2 separate regions of the Homo sapiens genome follow, and region 2 is linked to region 1. The links come from fine-mapping of genetic effects on plasma protein levels. A gene starts in region 1. The other region holds a variant in brackets. All regions are shown on one strand. Distances are between the middles of the regions.

Region 1 (2,912 bases):
TTCAATCAAATTAGCATATCAGGCCTTTGCTCTTATTGTGTGATGAAAGACTTTGTTCCCTGTTTAAAGGAATGCTAGGCAACAAGACCAGAATAAGGAGATTTTGGGTTTGTTTTTAGACCTGGATCCTTCTCCTGTGCAACCCCAACGCATAGTAGGTTTGAGATGGACTATAAAGGTAAAGCTACTTTTATAATGCTAGAGTGTCTGCGGAGAAATCAGAAAGGACCACAGAGTGCTGGTCTGGCTTCTCTTTTTTCCCTTTAGGCTATGTGGTACAGACATCATGGAAGAGCCTGAACTGAGTATTTATAATTTCATGATTCTGCTCTGGATATCAGAGCAGCCTCTCCCAGGTTATACCTTATCTGATCCTCCCCTGGTGCCATCATCTGCCCAGGCTGGCTTCTCCTTTCTCCCGTCTCTACGTCCCCAAGACTAGGCTGCCTACCCGGCTCAGAGTTTCTTCTATTCAGTACAACCAACACCCAGAGGAACTGGTGAGGAACAGGAAGCTCAAGGATCTATCAAGTGGTGGAGGATGGAGTCACAGAAAGTCCTTTTTCTGATGGGAGAGCAAGGTGAAATCCCTAGTGGCTTAGACCCAGGGCTGGAGAGGGGATAACTGGTGAGAAGGCATCCAGGGAAGTCCTTTTTCTTTAGGATGATGGTGATGGGGAACTAAATGGGGAAATATGGAAGGTCACAGGAAAAGTTAACACAAGTTAGCAAAAAGTTAACATAACACAAAAAGGTCTTGCAGGAAAAAAAAAAGAAAAGAAAAGAAAGAAAAAGTCTCCAAGAATGGTTTGGACAGCCAAAATGAATACTTATAGTCACGTATACCTGCTCACTCCTGACGCTTCACTCACACACAGCACAGGATCTGGTGAGGCTATCACTAAATGTGCCACATTGTGGTTAAGTTTTACCTGATTAACGAAATGCTCACACTTCTAAACTGAGGTCCTTACAGTAGATTCCTTTTGCAAGATTGTTACTGGCTTACAACTTAAAAATAAAGGAAAATCACAAGGAAAGAAAAGTGGGGAAAAAATCGGAGGAAACTTGCCCCTGCCCTGGCCACCGGCAAGGCTGCCACAAAGGGGTTAAAAGTTAAGTGGAAGTGGAGCTTGAAGAAGTGGGATGGGGCCTCTCCAGAAAGCTGAACGAGGCATCTGGAGCCCGAACAAACCTCCACCTTTTTTGGCCTCGACGGCGGCAACCCAGCCTCCCTCCTAACGCCCTCCGCCTTTGGGACCAACCAGGGGAGCTCAAGTTAGTAGCAGCCAAGGAGAGGCGCTGCCTTGCCAAGACTAAAAAGGGAGGGGAGAAGAGAGGAAAAAAGCAAGAATCCCCCACCCCTCTCCCGGGCGGAGGGGGCGGGAAGAGCGCGTCCTGGCCAAGCCGAGTAGTGTCTTCCACTCGGTGCGTCTCTCTAGGAGCCGCGCGGGAAGGATGCTGGTCCGCAGGGGCGCGCGCGCAGGGCCCAGGATGCCGCGGGGCTGGACCGCGCTTTGCTTGCTGAGTTTGCTGCGTGAGTACCGCCCGCGCGCCGCGGCCGCTTGGCTTCGCCGCGGGGAGGGTGGAGGCTTTCTGGGAGGCTGAACAGCAGAGCAGAGTCTCACGGAGGGAAGGGACCCCTGCCCAACCCACGCACTGCCGCCCACAGCTGCTTCCCCCCGGGGCCAGCGCCTCACCTGGGAGCTGACGGGGGTGGGAGGGGAAGGGAAGGCCATCACCCCCGCGAGTGTGCGTTAGCCGAGGTGTGAATCGGTCAGCACGACTGGTTCCAATGGACTGAGATAAAGCGCTTTGGAGATGCCAGGGTCTCTTCTGGTTGCCAGAGGCGCGGAGTGCGAAGTTGCAGCCAGAACCGGGAGACTGGGGAGGAGAGAAGCAGGAAAAGTTTTGTGGCTCTTGGTTGATTCAGAAAGTATAGACACGGAGCGGATTGCTGGGAAGGGGCCGGTGTGCCCACCTTGCACAGGGACTGGGAGAGCCAGAAGTGGACATTAAGGAATTCGAGGGAAGCGAATCAGGGATGAGGCTCCAGGTCCCAGGCCAGGGGTGTTCGGAATGAACAGTCCGTGAAAAGGAAAAACAAAACCAAACAACCAACCAAACAAAAACCTTGCATTTAAGATTGGGAAGCTGAGTTTGAATTCCCACTTCAGCAACCCCACCGCGGAGGAGGTAGAAGTAGACAGAATTTGCTCTGCGCCCAGCCTCGCTCGCCTTACCAAAAACCGTCACCCCTGCACAAATTTCAAAACTTGTCACCTTTTGGAGTTTTCTTCCTCTGCCCCTGCTCCAAGTTCTAAAGCTAGTGGATGGGTTAGAACACTGCCCCCACTCACCTACACATATCCTTACTCTTAAGGTCTTGCTCTCACTTCGGTTAAAAAAAAAATAGGCACCCGGTAAATATTTATACTCGATTACTTTCCTTGGGGAATGACATTCTCCACCTCATCTCTTTGCACTTGGAAGGTTTGAAACTTTTGAAACTTTGTACATTGCTCTCCCTTTTGCTTACAGCACTCTAGGGCTCCCAATTCTGTACTCTCACTACATCCTAAGGGCCACCCACTGTGGCCCTGCAGAGTGACCTGGACTAGACCTCTTTGTTCCCAGTCTCCTCTGTTGTCCATCTTTGGGTCCGCCCAGCTGGGGACAGCTGCCCCTGGGCTGGAGGAAGCTCTGAGAGAAGTTTTGGGTTGCCCTGTTTGGCAGTCCTGGATGTGTGCTTTGGGGCAAGGAAAAGCTATCAATGAGGTTTCAAAATTCTAGAGTGGGTGCTAGACTAGGCCCTCATAACAGGAGTGAGTCGGCCGGGCGCAGTGGCTCACGCTTGCAATCCCAGCACTTTGGGAGGCCGAGGCAGGCAGATCATGAGGTCAAGAGATCGA
Region 2 (2,912 bases), 10 kb after region 1:
GCACCTTGGTGATTCAGGCTCTTCATCTCTAAGACAGAGATAGTGATATTCCTTCTCCCCACTGCTTACCTGACACATAACAGTAAGACACGATTGCTGCAGTCACCATTAATAGCAATCTGCTTGCAGCAGGTTGTGGAAGGAAGCAGATATGAGAGAGTGAAACCCTTGTCATCACCTTTAGGGAAACCGTTCTTGGCCCCAGGTTGATGGCCGTGAAGCCAAAAGTCTAACTTCCCTCTTGATCCTGAGGGAAACAAGAGATGTCATTCTACCTTGCTGTTTACCTGGAAATCGCTGAAAAGTACAGATCTAGATCCCAATCAGGAAAATTTAGAGACAAGCTTTAGGGTGGCCTGGGACCCTCAGAGGCTCTTCCTTGAAGATGCAACTGCCTTTATGAACTCTGGATACCAAGTTCACCCTTAACATTTACAAGGCCCAAGGCAAGAGTACAACAGAGGCCTACATACTATATTTCTAAACATTTCAAGGTTGTAAGTCAGGCCAACTAACTAATAAAATATCTTCTATCCTCTTACCTTGACAAACATATCTTCGTGATCACCTGGAAGGCCAAGTTTCAATTTGGGATGCTCAGATTCTTGGAATTCACTGCCACAGTGCAGCTTAGCAGGAAGAGATGGCTCCTGGCCCCAGCCCACTTCCCTTCATCTACTTTCTACCCATGACTCTGGCTCACATTGCAAGGCAATTGCATGTGTGCCTGGGACACCCCACCCACAGGCTTAAGCACTAAGCACTAACTCTTCTCCCTGCAAGCAGTCATCATTTGGCCACCACTGGGCCTTGGGGGTGTACACCCTTGTGCTGCAGTTCCCCTTAGCAGGATGGACTGGGAGAAGCGGCCCATCGTGGATGTGAGCAAAGTGCCATTTGATCAAGAAGTGCTAGGACTTCTGGTCCCCACAGTATGACCTAGAAGAGAGGGTACATCCTGATTGGTCCTCACAGGAAGCAGGACAGGGTGTGGGCTCTTTGAGGCATAGGGTTCAGTCAAGAAGCTTCTCCTTCCTGTGTCTAATGAGGATACTGACTGGGAATGGTGAGTAACATCTGTAATCCCAGAGCTTTGGGAGGCCAAGACAGGAGGATCACTTGAGGCCAGGAGCTTAAGGTTACAGTGAGCTATGATCTCACCACTGCATTCTAGCCTGGGTGCTGTGATGACAGAGCAAGACCCTGTCTTAAAAAAAAAAAAAAAAAAGTATGTATCCCAGGATATACAGAAGAGATGTGCAAAGACACTCATGAAGATCTTCAGAGAAAAATGAGATCCAAAACATTATACTATAATACTATAATAACTTAGCATTTGTTATCTCATTGTTTATCCCAGCAATCCATGTAAGGTAGCCAGAAAAGACCCTTACTTAAGAGGTAAGAGAGCTGAGATACATACATGCATTAAATTACATGGTTAGTTATTGGAAGAGCCAGAACAAAGCTTGTCTACCTTCCCACTACATTGATGAGAAACCAGACCTTGTGTTCCCTGGTTCATTAGCTGAATTCCTAGGTCAGAGCATGCTAAAAGAAGAAAAGGAAAGGCGAATGGGTTTGAAGGCCATGAGCAAAAGGATGAGGGGAGTATGGGAATGGGAAGTCTGAGAAGTATAGATTTTTAAGGGGATCGCATAGAGACAGTGAGTCTAGTGATTATTCCAAGAGTTAGTATACTGGATGGAGAGTGACCAAAAAAGAGGATACAGTGAAAAGAAAAAAGAAGCATGACCTTTTGCACACATTAGATCTTTGCAATATTTATGCAGGTGTAATTTTATATTTTAGTATGTAACTAAACATACTATGAACATCACCTCATAGTTCCACGTTGCTACAGTTTTTATAATTTTTTTCTTTCTAATGTTTGTTTATATGATTATATAATGATTATGGTATATTAAGTGCATATATCACTTATCCTATCATAATTCATTTAGTTGTTCACGTTTCCCTCCTATAAATAATACTGTATGAGACATTTGTATGCATATAAATCTTTCCTTCCCTATGTCCTCAGGGCAAATTTGGTAGTGGGAAATTAATCCACTGTCCAGGAGTATGTTCTTGTTGCTGCCAACAAGGGGCAGCAGGGAATGTTCTAGACGAATTCTACCTGAAGTCAGGAAATTGCATCAGGTGATATCACCAGGCTGATATCTTTAGGTTCTG[A/G]TTCTTCCTCCTCGTTTCCCTATAGCTTCTGGGTTCATGAGTCTTGACAACAACGGTACTGCTACCCCAGAGTTACCTACCCAGGGAACATTTTCAAATGTTTCTACAAATGTATCCTACCAAGAAACTACAACACCTAGTACCCTTGGAAGTACCAGCCTGCACCCTGTGTCTCAACATGGCAATGAGGCCACAACAAACATCACAGGTAAAAACAGCATTTGTGTCAGATCCCGGAGAGATGCTGGTGATGCTTGGGTAAAGCATTTAGGATGTTTTCAGACCGCTCCCCTCTCCACAGAGGAAATTATACAAGTCCCTAGTATTAATGACTTGAGTATCATGCTTAGGGTGCCCTGAAGTAAGTTCTAGATAATTCTTCCTTCAGTGACAGTTTTCTCAGGCCCATGTCTTGGGAGCTGATCCTGATCAGTAATGCCTCCATACCCCTTCTCTCATGCTGAGTCTAGCTTAGTGATAAAATAAGGATCAGAAGACTCAATAGAGATCTCCGATCTCTTCTAAAGGAAAGAAGGTGGGTACAGGTCCAAACTGGGGGTCTTTGGCTTCTCTAAGGTAGACCAGCATCTATTTCAGTTTCAGGACACCTCTAATACATTCTAGATTCTAGCTCTTGTTCCAACAGCTTGAAATGAGTTTGGTCAGGGATGGGACACGAAGTAACTGTTAACTCCCCAAACTCCCTTTTCTGTGTT

Direction of the effects. Positions count from the first base shown, and alleles are read on the strand shown. Strength reflects both the effect of a copy and how common the allele is.
With allele G in place of A in region 2, the plasma level of the protein whose gene starts at base 1,414 in region 1 is lower (weak association).

Evidence for each region. A credible set is the group of variants that fine-mapping cannot tell apart. PIP is the chance, under the fine-mapping model, that this variant and not a neighbour inherited with it causes the effect. Protein levels are from antibody-based Olink assays in UK Biobank. Linkage for the fine-mapping came from a reference panel and not from the study's own genotypes, which makes the PIPs less certain.
Region 2: its variant is the best candidate, but not a certain one, in a credible set for the plasma level of the CD34 protein (UK Biobank, PIP 0.82).

Annotation. Positions count from the first base shown.
Region 1 is chr1:207,909,627-207,912,538 of GRCh38, reverse strand. It overlaps CD34 (CD34 molecule), which reads left to right and starts at 1,414. Exons shown (of 8, transcript NM_001025109.2): 1 at 1,414-1,537. The coding sequence starts at 1,459. LOC107985253 (a long non-coding RNA gene) reads right to left here and starts at 2,171. Exons shown (of 4, transcript XR_001738424.2): 1 at 1,982-2,171; 2 at 1,701-1,884.
Region 2 is chr1:207,899,313-207,902,224 of GRCh38, reverse strand. It overlaps CD34 (CD34 molecule), which reads left to right. Exons shown (of 8, transcript NM_001025109.2): 2 at 2,222-2,404. Among named protein-coding and RNA genes, the nearest start is that of CD34, 10 kb to the left of the region's middle. The variant A/G (reference allele first, on the strand shown) is at 2,197.